Homo sapiens: one gene and its partners. The protein of the gene in region 3 purifies or fractionates together with the protein of the main gene of each other region. This does not show direct contact. Each region holds a gene or a part of one and is shown on either strand. Other genes may lie near its edges.

Region 1 (3,500 bases), on a different chromosome or scaffold from region 3:
AAAGGTTTGTTCTATCACTCATTTTTTTTTCTCTTTTTCTTTTTTTGAGACGGAGTCTCACTCTGTCACCCAGGCTGGAGTGCAGTGGCACAATTTCGGCTCACTGCAACCTCCACCTCCTGGTTTCAAGCAGTTCTTCCCCCTCAGCCTCCTGAGTAGCTGGGATTACAGGCACCTGCCATCATGCCTGGCTAATTTTTGTATTTTTAGTAGAGACGGGGTTTCACCATGTTGGCCAGGCTGGTCTTGAACTCCTGAGCTTGTGATCTGCCTGCCTCGTTTTTGTATTACACATCACATTCAACACACTTTACTGACCACCTACTTTGTGCTAAAACAACATGAAATGTTGAAGGGGCCTTAGGACAATAGAGTTTTGGCCCTCTCCATGACAGAAGACAGCAGAGACTCCTGGAGAGCACGGACCTTGGACATCAGACAGGCATGGCTCTGAGTCTTGCCTTTGCCACTTATTTGCTGTGACTGCAGCCAAGTAACTCTCCGAGCCTCCGTTTCCTCATTTGTAAAGTAGAGATGATGATGATGATGATGATGATGATGATGATGGTGTCCTTACCTTGTCTCAAGGTTGTTGATTTGTAAGGGATTTGGCAGACTGTCTGAAATACAGTATGACTTAGTAAGTGTTACCTTTTCTCCAGTTCATCTCTCTTTTTCCAAAAACTTTAAATCATTTCAGTGAGTGAGAACATTCTATAAAGCTAAGTATAATCAAAGGCAAATTGGAATAACTACTTCAGAGAAAGAAAAATAATAACAACACACTATCTCACTTGCCTCACAACTCTATCAAGGTGCTATTAATCCACATTTTTTTTTTTTTTGGAGACGGAGTTTCGCTCTTGTTGCCCAGGCTGGAGTGCAGTGGCATGATCTCAGCTCACTGCAAGCTCTGCCTCCCGGGTTCAAGGGATTCTCCTGCCTCAGCCTCCCGAGTAGCTGGGACTATAGGCGCCTGCCACCACACCCAGCTAATTTTTTGTATTTTTAGTAGAGATGGAGTTTCACCATGTTAGCCAGGATGGTCTCGATCTCCTGACCTCGTGATGAGCCCACCTCGGCCTCCCAAAGTGCTAGGATTACAGGTGCGGGCCACTGTACCCAGCCTTAATCCACATTTTTAAATGAGGATGCTGAGGTTCAGCTATGTCAGAAAATTTGTCCTAGTAAGTAGCAGAGTTTTGATTTGAATTCACATAATCTGACTCTAGAAACCATGTTCTTAACTACCTGTAAAATACTGATTTGAAATATATGAAAAATTTTATGGAAGAACAGAGGAAGGGGCAATTTATTTCAACTTGGGAATAAAGCCTTTGTGAAAGCCTTTGTGAAAAAGAGAAGATCAGAGCTGGGCCTTAAAGGAAGAGCAAGATTTCATTTTGATAGAAGTAAAATGGAAATGGGGATATAAAAAGGAGGACTATTCCAGGCAAAGAAATTGGTGCCAACAATGTGGAGGCATAAAAGGACATGATGTGCTGGAAAACAGGGAGAAATTTGCATGGATAGACATCCCTTGGCTCATGGATACAATATGGTGTAAATCAGTCATGGTAATCCTATTCCCACTTGCCAGACAGATAAATGAAGCAACAGAAAGAATTAGAGAACAGGTTGGGGCCAAATAATGTCATGCCTAGAACATCTTCCAGGACATTTGAAACTTAGAGGCAATAGTGAGCCATAGATGGTTATAGAAGAGTAGATACATGATACTACCCATGGTCCAAGAAAAGAGTTTTCAGTAATGTGGGGGAAATACTAGAATGAGAGAAAACAGTTAAGGGTCTCCTGTTATATTTTAGCTCAGAGACACTAAAGGGTAGATGGGGGCAATGGAAGTGAATATGCACACAGAAATCCCAGAGGAAAATTGGCTGGGCTTGACTATTGATATGGGTGCCTGGAAAGGCCAGTAAGGAGAAGAAGGAGAAGGTAGTTATTCTTGTAAAGTGTAAAATATTGTTCATTGAAAAGCAGTGTAGTAATGAGGGTGCATTGGGCTGCAATGAACAGTACCCAACTAACAGAGATTTAGACAATAAAGACATTTCATATCTCACAAAAGAAGTCTGGGCTGGCTACCGTGGCTCACGCCTGTAATCCCAACACTTTGGGAGGCCAAGGTGGGTGGATCACCTGAGGTCAGGAGTTCAAGACCAGCCTGCCCAACATGGCGAAACCCCATCTCTACTAAAAATACAAAAAATTAGCTGGCCATGGTGGTGAGTGCCCGTAATCCCACCTCCTCGGGAGGCTGAGGCAGGAGAATCGCTTGAACCCAGGAGGCGGATGTTGCAGTGAGCTAAGATCGCGCCACTGCACCCCAGCCTAGGCAACAAGAGTGAAACTCCATCTCAAAAAAAAAAAAAAAAAAAAAAAAAAGGAAGTCTAGAAGTCTGATAGTAGACAGTTCCAGGTAGGGGTAGTTCAACTGCTCAGTGATGTTAGAAAATGGGATGGTGTCTCTGAAATCCCCTTAACCTTTTCCTCACAGTCTCACATGGTGGCAGCAGCAGTTCCAAGTATCTTTTCTTCATATGAGAGTATCCAAAAAAGGCAGGGCTTCTCTTCCCACATCCTAGAAGCTTCTGAGCAAACTTCCTGTATGTCAGAATATTATCACTAGTCACCCTCAGCTACCAGGAAGCTGGAAGAATAAGTATCTGATAAATGGAGATAGGATTACCATGACTGGCTTACACCATGATGTATCCACAGGCTGAGTCTACCATGGACTGATCAAATTCAGGTGTTAATAAGGAAAAAGAGGTCATGACTGCTGAGTGGGTAACCAACAGTGTTTGCCATGAGCATTCTGAACAAGCAATCAGCCTTCTAGAAAATGGGAATTTGCAAGATGATCTTGTAATAATTGGGAGTGAAAGCATCTTTCTGATGAAAGCCAAGCTCCTATTCAGCAGCCTCAGAAGGAAGGGATTAGCCCAGTTTCCTTTCTCAGGACCAACAGCATATTTTGAGTTGCTGAGCTTGGCAGGAAGTGGAGGAAAGGATGATACACAATCACTAGGATTTGTGATTTAGACTGAGAGAACTTCTGGTAAAGTAGCCTCAGGTGAGAAAGAACTCTTCCTCCTCCCAGCAGTCTTCAGAACTGAAGAACATTGGGTCACTCTTTTCACCAGGGCTATATAATCCTCTTTTGCATGTTCCAGTCCTAAAAGGTCCAATTCAGCTACTACTTCCTTCAAGAAGCTTTTCCTATCACTGGTCAACTTGTGCCCCACTGTACTATTTACACACATTTACATACATTTTGCGATCACTCTTGATGCACTTACCTTCCAACCTTACATATGTAAGCTATCATCAAATCCAGTCAACTTGATCTAAATAGCTACTGATTCTATCCACCTCTCCATCTGCATTACTGACAATAACCGCTGAAGTCTAATGGACATGTACTACATGCCAGGCATTATTCTATATATTTTACACTTACTAATCCATTTTAT
Region 2 (3,500 bases), on a different chromosome or scaffold from region 3:
AGCAGTGTCAACCACATAGGCAAACTCATCCAGCATCTCTTTTCCTGGGGTCACAGCCAGAAGAGATCTGCTGGGCTGTTTGCCCAGAGGGTGCAGATGTGTATCTACTTACCATGCTGTACAGGTAAGGTCCCCAGGAGAGCACCGAATCTAAAGGAAATCACATATGTACAAATCAAGTATGTCATACCTCTGTCTTTCCAAAGACAAACCTACTGTCTTCTCTCTAAAGAAGAAAGAGACAGAAGCAAGAAACCCGGTGGCTTTGGATTGGAAGGCTCCTCAATTCACCTGTACCCATGCAGGAGGCGGGCTGATGTCTCAGTGTCTGGAAGGTGGGATAAGGGTGTGGGGGCCTTTCTGTTGACTCTTAAGACTAATGGCACATTAATTTGGCCTGATACTGGTCCAGCAAGTGAGTCATTGCCGATGACAGCATCCCCACAGGCAGGCTGTAGGTATGCAGGTGGAGGCTCTTATCTGTGGACCTCTAGGCCTTTTGACAGCTTAAAATATTTCCCCACCCTCACATTTCTGCTCTACATCTTATTTGCTCCTCCAGTTTGGAGATATTAGCTTCTGCCAAGGAGCTAAATAAGGAAGATGACTAATGAGTTTGCAACAGTGCAAATGGCTATATTGCCAATTGGCTTATTCCCATCCCACAAACATATTGAGAATTTACTAAGGGTCTAGAGGCAGCAAAAGCTTAAGATATAAATGTGAGTAACATAATGCCTGTCCTCAAAGAGAATAGTAGTTGACCTTGGTTTAGACAAGCTCACAACTATTAAATACTGTATCACTAGGTAAGACAAGTGCTATTGAAAGACACGCCAACAAAGAATCAAGGACCTCAACTTATAAAGCACATTTGAGTATGTCTCTCCTTAGCTTAAAAGTATTCAATGGCTCCTTAAGGCAAAGTGTCTCAAAGTAGGTTTCAAGTAGTCTTAGTTCTGCAGGAACTAAGTCCATGTTGCCCAGTCTGGTCTCGAACTTTTGGGCTCAAGCAATCTGCTCGCTTTGGTCTCCCAAAGTGCTAGGATTACAGATGTGAGCCACTACACCTGGCCTGGACTGGTATTCTTTTAGAGTACTCTCTGAGAAATGCAAGCACACCAGGACTTCCGTGGCCTAGCTGTTAATCACCTCCCGGGCTTAACCTTCAAACTTGTTTCTTAGTTTCTTAAAACACAGGATTGGCTGCAGTTCTCCAATGCATCCCACTTCCTGTTTGATCTGGGCCAGAGACTGGTAAACTTTCTGTAAAGGGACAGATAGTAAATAATTTTGGCCTGGTAGGCCAGCCTATCTCGGTTGAACTACTCCACTCTGTTCTTACAGCCTCCAAACAGCCATAGACAGTAAATTAACTTTTACCGGCTGGGTGCGGTGGCTCACGCCTGTAATCCCAGCACTTTGGGAGGCCGAGGTGGGCAGATCACCTGAGGTCAGGAGTTGGAGACCAGCCTGGCCAACATGGTGAAACCCCATCTCTACTAAAAATACCAAAAACATTAGCCAGGCGTAGTGGTGGGCACCTGTAATCCCAGCTATTCAGGAGGCTGAGACAGGAGAATTGCTTAAACCTGGGAGGCGGAGGTTGCAGTGAGCCGAGATCGTGCCACTGCACTCCAGTCTGGGCAACAAGAGCAAAACTCCATCTCAAAACAAACAAACAAAAACAAACAAACAACAAAAACTTATTTACCAGAGCAGGCGGCAGGGCAGACTTGACTCATGGGCCCTTGTTTACCAATCTTTGAAGTAGGCCTGCATTGTTCAATAGAACTTTCTACAGTAATGGAAGTGTTCTGTATCTGTGCAGTCCAAAATGCTAGCTAATAGCCACATGTGTCTATGGAGCACTTGGGTGTAGAGAGTGCCCCTGAAAAAATGAAATTGTATTTAAAAATTATAATTAAATTTATATAGTCACATGTGGCAAGTGGTTACCATACTGACATGGTCACATGGGCTTAGTGACAGTGCAGATCAAGACCTTCTTGAAGATCAGGAGCTTATCTGTGTATCTTTTCCTAGCACCTAGAACAGTATCTACTACCTAGCAAGCAATTAACAATTGTTCATGGAAATTAACAATACTTCTCCCTCAAAAACCAATGTTTCTGGGATAGAGGGGCAATACTTAAAGTGGATCTGGAAGGATGGATTACGATCCAGACAAACAGATTCATAAGGTAAAGTGGGTCACGGCAAGGAGAAAAAGGTAGATTCCAAACACAATGAATAACACTTGCAAAGCCAGGAAGCGAAACGTACTGATCTTGGAGAGACAATGTAGCAAGGTGGTTAGGTTGCTTGGATTCCAGTACCTGCTGCCTGGATTTGAATCCCAGTTCTACCATTTAGCTAGGTGACTCTAAGAAAGTTGCTTAACCTCTCTAAGTCTCAGTTTCATCATTTACAAAATTAGGATAATGATAGCATCCATCCCATGGAGTTGTTGTAAGGATTACATGAAGTTAGCACATGTAAAGTACTTAGTGCTACTGTGAAACTGAGGAGACCCCATGAGGAAGTGAGAGGGCCAGCATCATAATTTTGAGTCATAAACAACTCTTATCTGTGTTCCCAGTGAGGATGCTCAGTTATGAAACAGCACACCTCTGGGTTGCAAGACCTGATGGAGACTTTGTCTTGCCATCAACATGAACAAAAGAGCAGTATCTGACAAGAAACTCTCATGCTTCTCTAAGCTTCTGCAGTTTTATGATGTCCTACGAGATCCATCCAGGAAGGAAAGACAGATAAACGAATAGCAGCCCTCCTCTTCATGCTGACTCAGTTTTATGCTACTTCAGTCCTACCCTGCAGATGGCAAACATGAGGGCAAGAAATACTATTCCAAGTCGTAATGGTTATTGGGAATATGGCTCTGTAACAAGCAAATCCCTATCTTTTAGGGGTAAATATTACCTTTTATAAATGATTATTTTTAAAAAACTGAGCCATAATCACAAATCACAAGTGTACCTTCAGAAGAGTTTTGATGAATGCATATGCCCGTGTAACCACCCCCTGCAATCAAGATATATTTCCCTCATGTACCTTTCCTGCTTATTTCCCTCCTTTGCCCCTAGGCAGCCTCTCTTCTGATTTCTAACTCGATAGTTTGGTTTTGCCTGGGGAAATCACGTTTTGTTAGGTTAGAACAATGGTTCTCAATCAGGGATGGTTTTGTTCCCCAGGGAGACATTTCTGGTTGTCACACTGGAGCGGTGCTACTAGCATCTCCTGAGTAGAGGCCAAGGATGCTGCTGATAATATCCTACAATGCACAGGACAGCCTCCCACAAAAAGAACTATATGACCCACAATGTCAACAGTGCTGAGAAACCCTGTGTTAGAGTGAACGCCACCAGGATGATTGTTTCAGATGTCTGGGGCCACACCCTGGGTGTCTGCAACATAAACAACTCTTATTTATGCTCGCAACACGGATGCTCAATTACAAAACTGCACACTTCTGAGTT
Region 3 (4,232 bases):
TATACAAAAATTAATTCAAGATGGATTAAAGACTTAAATGTTAGACCTAAAACCATAAAAACCCTAGAAGAAAACCTAGGCATTACCATTCAGGACATAGGCATGGGCAAGGACTTCATGTCTAAAACACCAAAAGCAATGGCAACAAAAGCCAAAATTGACAAATGGGATCTAATTAAACTCAAGAGCTTCTGCACAGCAAAAGAAACTACCATCAGAGTGAACAGGCAACCTACAGAATGGGAGAGAATTTTTGCAATCTACTCATCTGACAAAGGTTTAGACTTTCATCAGAAATGCTTAGTTAGCTTAGTTGTTCCTCTAGAACAGCAATCAACTAACTATGGCCCACAGGCCGTATCTGGCCCACCATCTGCTTTCATAAGTAACTTTTAATAGAACATGGCCACGCTCGTTTGTTTACATATTGCCTATGTAACTGCTTTTGCACTATAATGGCAGAGCTGAACAGTTCCAAAAGAGGTCCACAAAGCCTAAAATATTTACTATCTGGCTCTTTATTAAAAACAAATTAAAAATTCAAAAAAAGCCTGACCCCTGCTCTAGGACAAGTCTCCAGAAGTGGCTTTGGCTCAACATAAAAGAGAAAAAAATGAACTACTATCTTGCAAAATAGAGCTGTGATGAACTCCTATAGAAGATTCAAGTCTGAGTCTGCCTAGGCAGCTGTTAGGAATGTAGGCAGAACAAAAATAGTGTAGTCCTTTGATGACGTCCCTAAGATGAGGCAAGGACTGGAAGGAAGCCACACGGGCACAAGATGCAAATGTCATCTAAAGCAGCTCTGCCAGGAGAGGGCTGTGAGTTCTTGCAGACATCTGATCATTTTCCCTTTTCCTAGCTTACCCTCCACTTTACTGTGATACAGCAAAACAGTTCTAGTTACCTCTTATGAAGAGACTGCATGAACATAAATGACTACAGCAATGGTTTAGATTTAGGACTTTTATTTTTTTCACACCCAAGTTAGCCTGAGTTGACTCTCATTGTTCCCCTATCTACCCACAGTCCCCATCCAACACGAAGAAATATTTGCTTTCACATTACAGCATAAAGACCACCTAAGCTTTGACAGCTGACTTGTAGTGGGTCAGCGTGCGGGCAGAAGGGTCAGTGGCATTGATCCACTTGGGCATCCAGTAATGGCTCAGCCAGTCAGCCCGGCCTGGGTAATGGCGTTCAAAGACTTGACGGTAGTAATATCCTTCTTTGGTTTTAGGAGTATTGAAGGGAAATTTCTGGGCTGCATTTGCCATCATTGCATCATCAACCTGTAAGAATAAGCATATAAGAGCAAAATGGCTTAAAATGGCAGGAAATACTTGTGTTTAGTCTCATTTCACGAAACAGAAAATGTTAAGACGTGACTGTAACTTGTATGAGACCCTTTGAATCACCCATCACTTAGAAAATGCTAAAGTATTCATAATATGGATAGCTGCAGTGCCTTTTAAAGAACACTCATATGCATATTTTTAATACTTGGTGGCTCTGTTTTAGTCATTTGTGCCTAACAAGATCTGGCACCCAGCAGGTGCCCAAAAATCTGATAAATGAAAATCAGTGATGATTAGTAGTAAGTCTCCTCTCTCTCTCGATTCTAGATGCTACTTTATAATCCTTCATGCTACTTAATTCTTACGTAATTCTTACAAAAGAGATAATTGTTTACAGAGACTCTGAATCTCTCTGATAGGGACATCCTATCAGAGAGATATCTGATGTATGTATCATTCAAACTAAATACATGTATCATTCAAACTAAATACATGTATCATTCAAACTAAATACAAAATGAACAGCAATGACAGCTCTGCATCCAAACTGTCTTATTCCTGAAAATGTTTTTAAAGACATTATACCTGATGTTCAACGTATTCCTGTAAAATCTTAAACCAGGAATTCTTAACTGAAGTTATTCCATCACTGAAGGCTTCTTTTGGTCGCCAGAGAATCTCTTTGGGTATCAGATTGGAATCCTCAAACGTCTCTCTCAGGAGATGTTTTTCTATCCCATTCTGACGTGACAAAAAAAGGAGCATCAGGTAAAAATTACAAATATAATCTGATGGCAATGGACAGTTTTACCTTGAGTTGATTTACCTACCTTTGGAATTCTCATTTCTGGTGGCAGAGACAAGTAATAGGAAGAAAATCGATGATCTAGAAATGGGACTCTCAGTTCAAGACTTAAAGGAGAAAAGAAGAAAATCTAAATTAAAATGGGTATTTAGTGCCTGCCAGGTTAGGTTCTGATTCAGTTTCCCATCAATTCAACCAGATCTTAAGAAATGTTAAGGTCATACAGTCACATACAAGCCTCCTAATGACTGCCCTACACTAATGAATAGATACAAAAAATAAATCTTCATTTAAAATAATACATATATCATGTCATCTAGGGAGTAAAACTAACTGAGACTATTACTTTTACTTTCCCTTCTAGGAATAGTTAAATGCATATTTCAAAAAGCAGAAAAAGTTACAAAACATGAGTGACCCAATCATTAAGAAAATACCTTGCCTAGACCTAACTCAGTGTTTACTAGGTGAGACCATCTCTTCTAACAATTGTGATGACGATACAGTATTTTTTTGCCACTGATTAAAAATTCACATACAATATGCGATATAAACCAGTGTCCCACTATATTTCATCAAATTCCAAATCACCGGTTTCCTGAAGCCTAGTGACTCTAGTTAGGACAAGCAGAGAGGATAATGACCAGATTCAGTTCATTCCTCAAACCCATATTTAATTATATCCTTATCTAGGTGTGATTCAGCAGAGGCAACTAAGACATTTAATGTCAGTTGTTTATCCTGTACAGTAAAAGTCTTCAGTTCTTCAACATAACTTTAGACAACTAGAAATGATAACCAAAGAAACCTGGTTCTTTATAATGTAATCAAACCCCTTGTATCTTCACTACTCTATTCCCTCAGGGTCACTACAGCACCACATGGGCATGGTGGGCACTCACTACTTGTCACATGATGTTTACGATCTTTACTTCTCTTTAAAACACTTAACGGTAGCTGCTGTAGCAGCCTTGCCTCTTCCATCTTGGTTGTTCAGATGTGAGCAGAATGTTGTTACCCTTTAAAGGTGAAAACTCCACCTCAAACAACCTATGGAAGAAGACTTCTCTCCATATACCACAACACCACTTTGAAATGTGGCCTAATCCTTTTGGGACAAAGTTAAGAAACAGCTTCATTTTCTCTATAAAAGTCACACTTTGTAACATATAGCCAACTATATGTAACATATAGCCAATCAGCTATTGATTTTTATTTTCTCAGGGTATTGAGCTTTTTGTTTTGTTTTGTTTTTGGTGTTTTTTTGTTTTTGTTTTACAATAGCCTCTAAAAATATTACCCATGGGCAGCAGTAGTTCGATCTGCGCGGAGAACATCAAACAAATAGAGTTCCCTCAGAAGCCTCTCACTCTCCTCCTCGGCTTTTTCAGGAGAAGGAGCCTATTTCACAAACAAAAACACCAAGAGTTTTGCTTTTGGCACACAAAGCAGTTTTTCTTTCTCCCTCTCCAATCCTAAAGGTGGATAAGACAAAAAGTTAAACAAATTTAGGGAAGGGAGTAAATAACTGAACAGAGGTAAGCAATGCTTCACAAAACATGCCTTCCTTCCTACCAAACTGCTAATATTAGAATAAAATGAACACAATGGGCAACAGTCATAATTCCACAGGATGCTAAGAAATGGCAGAAAGGGGATTCTCAAGCTTAAGTAGTTTTATTTATTTATTTTTAACTTTTTTTTTTTTTTTTTTAAGAGACGGGGTCTTACTCTGTCAACCAGGCAGGAGTGCAGTGGTGCAATCACAGCTCACTGCAGCCTCAATCTCCTGGGTTCAGGTGATCCTCCCACCTCAGCCTCCTCAGCAGCTGGGGGTATGAGCATGAGCCCTCATACCCAGCTGTAACTAGTTTTAAAGAATAAAAATTATCTGACACATTAAAATTTCTTTCTTCCCCAAGAGATAGAAAGCAAACACTATCAGATTCCCTTTTGTAACCTCACAAGATACTCAAAAATATCACTGTCATACTGAAAGATGATAGAAAATAGTCAAACAATTCATACTTTTCTTAATATAGCATGAATATCCCTCCACTTCAGAGTGGTTACCTTGTGAAAATATATGTAACCCTGCGTAAGTTCATCTGATCCTTCTCCAGAGAAGA
Region 4 (3,072 bases), on a different chromosome or scaffold from region 3:
GGGTCAGTCTCAGCCCCTGCTCAGAGCTCAGTCCTGGGTTCTGTCTGCCCAGCTCCACCCCGTCAGTGTCACTGGACAGGGCAGCCATGCAGACCCTGCAGCTGGGCTGATAGGCCCGCCTGGGCCGCCTCATACAGACGTTCAGGGCATTGGAGGCCCCTTGCCGGTCCCTGAGCAGCCTGGGGCAGGGCTGCCGTGCTCACTCCAGGCCCTCAGACCTCAGCCCACCCACCCTTTGTGTGCAGGCTGTCCTGGGCCCACCTGGAGGTCAGGGGAGAGATGCCCCGAGGACATGTCTGACAGCAGAAAGCCTTGGCACACATGCCCAGTGACCACTGAGAGCCCCACGTCGCGGAAACCTGACGGCTGGTCACCCTTGACCCTGGCTGAACGGGTCCAAGGACTCTTGGTTTCTTTCTCCCCACCAGGGCCCAGACTGGTTCCTGCCGCGTGTAGGCTCGTGGCAGAGGACTTCCATGTGTGGCCAGAGAGCGCTCCTCCCTGGGGCAGCTGAGCGTGTGCCCCACCGTCCTGGGAGGGGTGAGGTATGAGCGCTGACCCCTGCCTGCCCCCGTCCCACAGGGTAATCCTGGGAATGGTGACGCTTGGGAACATGCTCTCGTCCCTGCTTGCCGGGAAGGTGCAGCCGTCAGACCAAGTTGGCAAAGTCATCTACAAGCAGTTCAAACAGGTACCCAGTCACCTACAGGCAGCTCAAACAGATGCGCAGTCACCTACAGGCAGCTCAAACAGGTGCCCGGTCACCTACACGCAGCTCAAACAGGTGCGCGGTCACCTACAGGCAGCTCAAACAGGTGAGCGGTCACCTACAGGCAGCTCAAACAGGTACCCGGTCACCTACAGGCAGCTCAAACAGGTGCGCGGTCAGCTACAGGCAGCTCAAGCGGGTGCGCGGTCACCTACAGGCAGCTCAAACGGGTGCCCAGTCACCTACAGGCAGCTCAAACGGGTGCCCGGTCACCTACAGGCAGCTCAAACGGGTGCCCGGTCACCTACAGGCAGCTCAAACGGGTGCGCGGTCACCTACAGGCAGCTCAAACGGGTGCCCAGTCACCTACAGGCAGCTCAAACAGGTGCGCGGTCACCTACAGGCAGCTCAAACAGGTGCCCGGTCAGCTACAGGCAGCTCAAACAGGTGCGCGGTCACCTACACGCAGTTCAAACAGGTGCGCAGTCACCTACACGCGGCTCAAACAGGTACTCAGGCACTTCGGGACCCCAGAGGGTGCCAGAGTACTCCAGCCTCGAAGGCGGGACACCGCGCTTCCCGTGTGGGGGTGCTGGGTCCTCGACCCTCAACACCACTTAGGCCGAAGCTGGCTGCACCCCTCAAACCATGAAGCTGAGAAGCACCCACTTTACAAGTGCAGCAGCCGGAGAGCAGGCTCTCATCAGTGCAGGCTCATCCACACCAGCCGTGTTTTGGGGACTTAAGGAGGTCATTCGCGCTCAGAGGCTGTCCCGGGCACCATGCGGCGTCTGCCGGGGTCTTTCTCCTGCCCAGCCTCATTTGCCTGTGCATGCACTTGGTTATCCAACAAGAGCTAGAACATTCTGGGAGAAGCCCACGGTGGCTCCTTGCCGGGCTGGTCAGACTCCGTGGTTGTCCTGAGACACCCACCCTCTGCTGCCCTGAGGGTGGCCCAGGAAAGTTTGTGTGACCTTCCACACGGATCCCCTGGGACATGCAGGTGTGGCTCTTGACACTGGAAAGGCTGAGGGTTCTGCCCAAACCTAGGAGTGAATTCGACTTCTTTCCCATCTCACACACACACCCGAGACGTCACCCGAATCCACGTATTTCCCACGTTCGGCTGCCACTGCCTCCCGGGTGGGCTTTGCAGGACCCACCATCGCATCCCCTCTCACTCCACAGAAAACTCGTGGGGCCATGTTCCCCCTGCCACTGACCACGCTTCCCTTGCAGATCCGCCTCACGGACACGCTGGGCAGGCTCTCGCACATCCTGGAGATGGACCACTTCGCCCTGGTGGTGCACGAGCAGATCCAGTGTGAGTGGGGCCCTGCTCTGTGCGTGGGGTTCTCACTGGGGTCAGGCCACCAAGCCTGGCCTCTGCCATGGGCAGCAGCTGGGCCCCCCATCCCCTGCGGGGTGTTAGGGGAGTGGGTGGTGCCGACCTTCAGTGACACCCAGTCTTTATGCCTGGGCCTCCCACATGCCCTGGGCTGGTGGGCTGTACCTGTGATTCCTGCAGGGACCCCTCATCAGGCCACACTGGGTAGGGCCCTTTGTCCAGCATGCAGAGGCTCAGGAGTCCAGGCCCCTTGCCTCCGGGGAGGCCAGCAGTCTTGGGGATTCTCAGGGACAAGCCCAGAAACATCTAGAAGGGTTTCAAGTCCTGACCCTGGCATTCGGAGGGCTGCTCTGAATGGAAGCCTCATGTGGGTCTCACAGGAGCCACTGATGGGCTGTCCTCAGAGCCCCGCTCCCAGCAAGCTCATGAGGTTTTGCAACTCCTGAGCGCATCCCCGGGCGTCCCCACCACATCCCCACAGGCCAGGAGAGTCGCTCGCAGGTTTTGGGTCATAGATGGCAGCCCTGGGCCTGGGGCCCACAGGAAGAGTTGGGAGGGGCCCTGGAGCCTGGAGCCTGCCCACCCACCAGGCCTGTGTGCAGGGGGTGAGCGCTCGGTGGCTGAGGCTGGTCCGTGAGGGCCCCAAGTCTAACCCCATCTCCCGTCCTTGGCTCTGCAGCGCAGGACCAGGCCTGGGCAGGCGTGGTGGGGGGGCCTGCAGGTAGGTATCACCCACCCCTCAGAATGGCTCTCAGGCTCAGATTCACAGCCTCCCCATGGCAAATGGAGGCCTTCCAGGGTCCTGGACCCACCCCCAAGCTTGGGTAGGAGGGATCCCCCTCTTAATCTCACATTTACTTGTGTTTGAACATCTCAGAAAAAAAAAAAGATGCAAATTCCAATGTCAGGGTCCCCAAATCAAGTCTTCCTGGAGCATGTCCACGCTTGTCACCACCGTCTGTGGCTGCTTTCAAGCACGTCAGGGCTGCGTGCTCATAACAGAGACGGCACGGCC

Evidence for each region.
Region 1: the proteins of ASNS (region 3) and GDA fractionate together in Homo sapiens (co-fractionation; one large-scale study listed by BioGRID). This does not show direct contact.
Region 2: the proteins of ASNS (region 3) and SCPEP1 fractionate together in Homo sapiens (co-fractionation; one large-scale study listed by BioGRID). This does not show direct contact.
Region 4: the proteins of ASNS (region 3) and CBS fractionate together in Homo sapiens (co-fractionation; one large-scale study listed by BioGRID). This does not show direct contact.

What each region holds. Positions count from the first base shown.
Region 1 is NC_000009.12:72,155,940-72,159,439, reverse strand, and holds part of GDA (guanine deaminase), read right to left. Parts: intron 621-3,500; exon of another isoform or gene 427-620; intron 1-426. UniProt on the Homo sapiens protein: Catalyzes the hydrolytic deamination of guanine, producing xanthine and ammonia.
Region 2 is NC_000017.11:56,991,631-56,995,130, reverse strand, and holds part of SCPEP1 (retinoid-inducible serine carboxypeptidase precursor), read right to left. Parts: intron 151-3,500; coding exon 113-150; intron 1-112. UniProt on the Homo sapiens protein: May be involved in vascular wall and kidney homeostasis.
Region 3 is NC_000007.14:97,851,177-97,855,408, forward strand, and holds the end of ASNS (asparagine synthetase [glutamine-hydrolyzing]), read right to left. Parts: coding exon 4,177-4,232; intron 3,579-4,176; exon of another isoform or gene 3,505-3,578; coding exon 3,404-3,504; intron 2,211-3,403; coding exon 2,129-2,210; intron 2,040-2,128; coding exon 1,884-2,039; intron 1,293-1,883; coding exon 1,083-1,292; 3' UTR 501-1,082; downstream 1-500.
Region 4 is NC_000021.9:43,055,764-43,058,835, reverse strand, and holds part of CBS (cystathionine beta-synthase), read left to right. Parts: coding exon 1-2; intron 3-428; exon of another isoform or gene 429-545; intron 546-582; coding exon 583-691; intron 692-1,948; coding exon 1,949-2,033; intron 2,034-2,736; coding exon of another isoform or gene 2,737-2,778; intron 2,779-3,072. UniProt on the Homo sapiens protein: Hydro-lyase catalyzing the first step of the transsulfuration pathway, where the hydroxyl group of L-serine is displaced by L-homocysteine in a beta-replacement reaction to form L-cystathionine, the precursor of L-cysteine.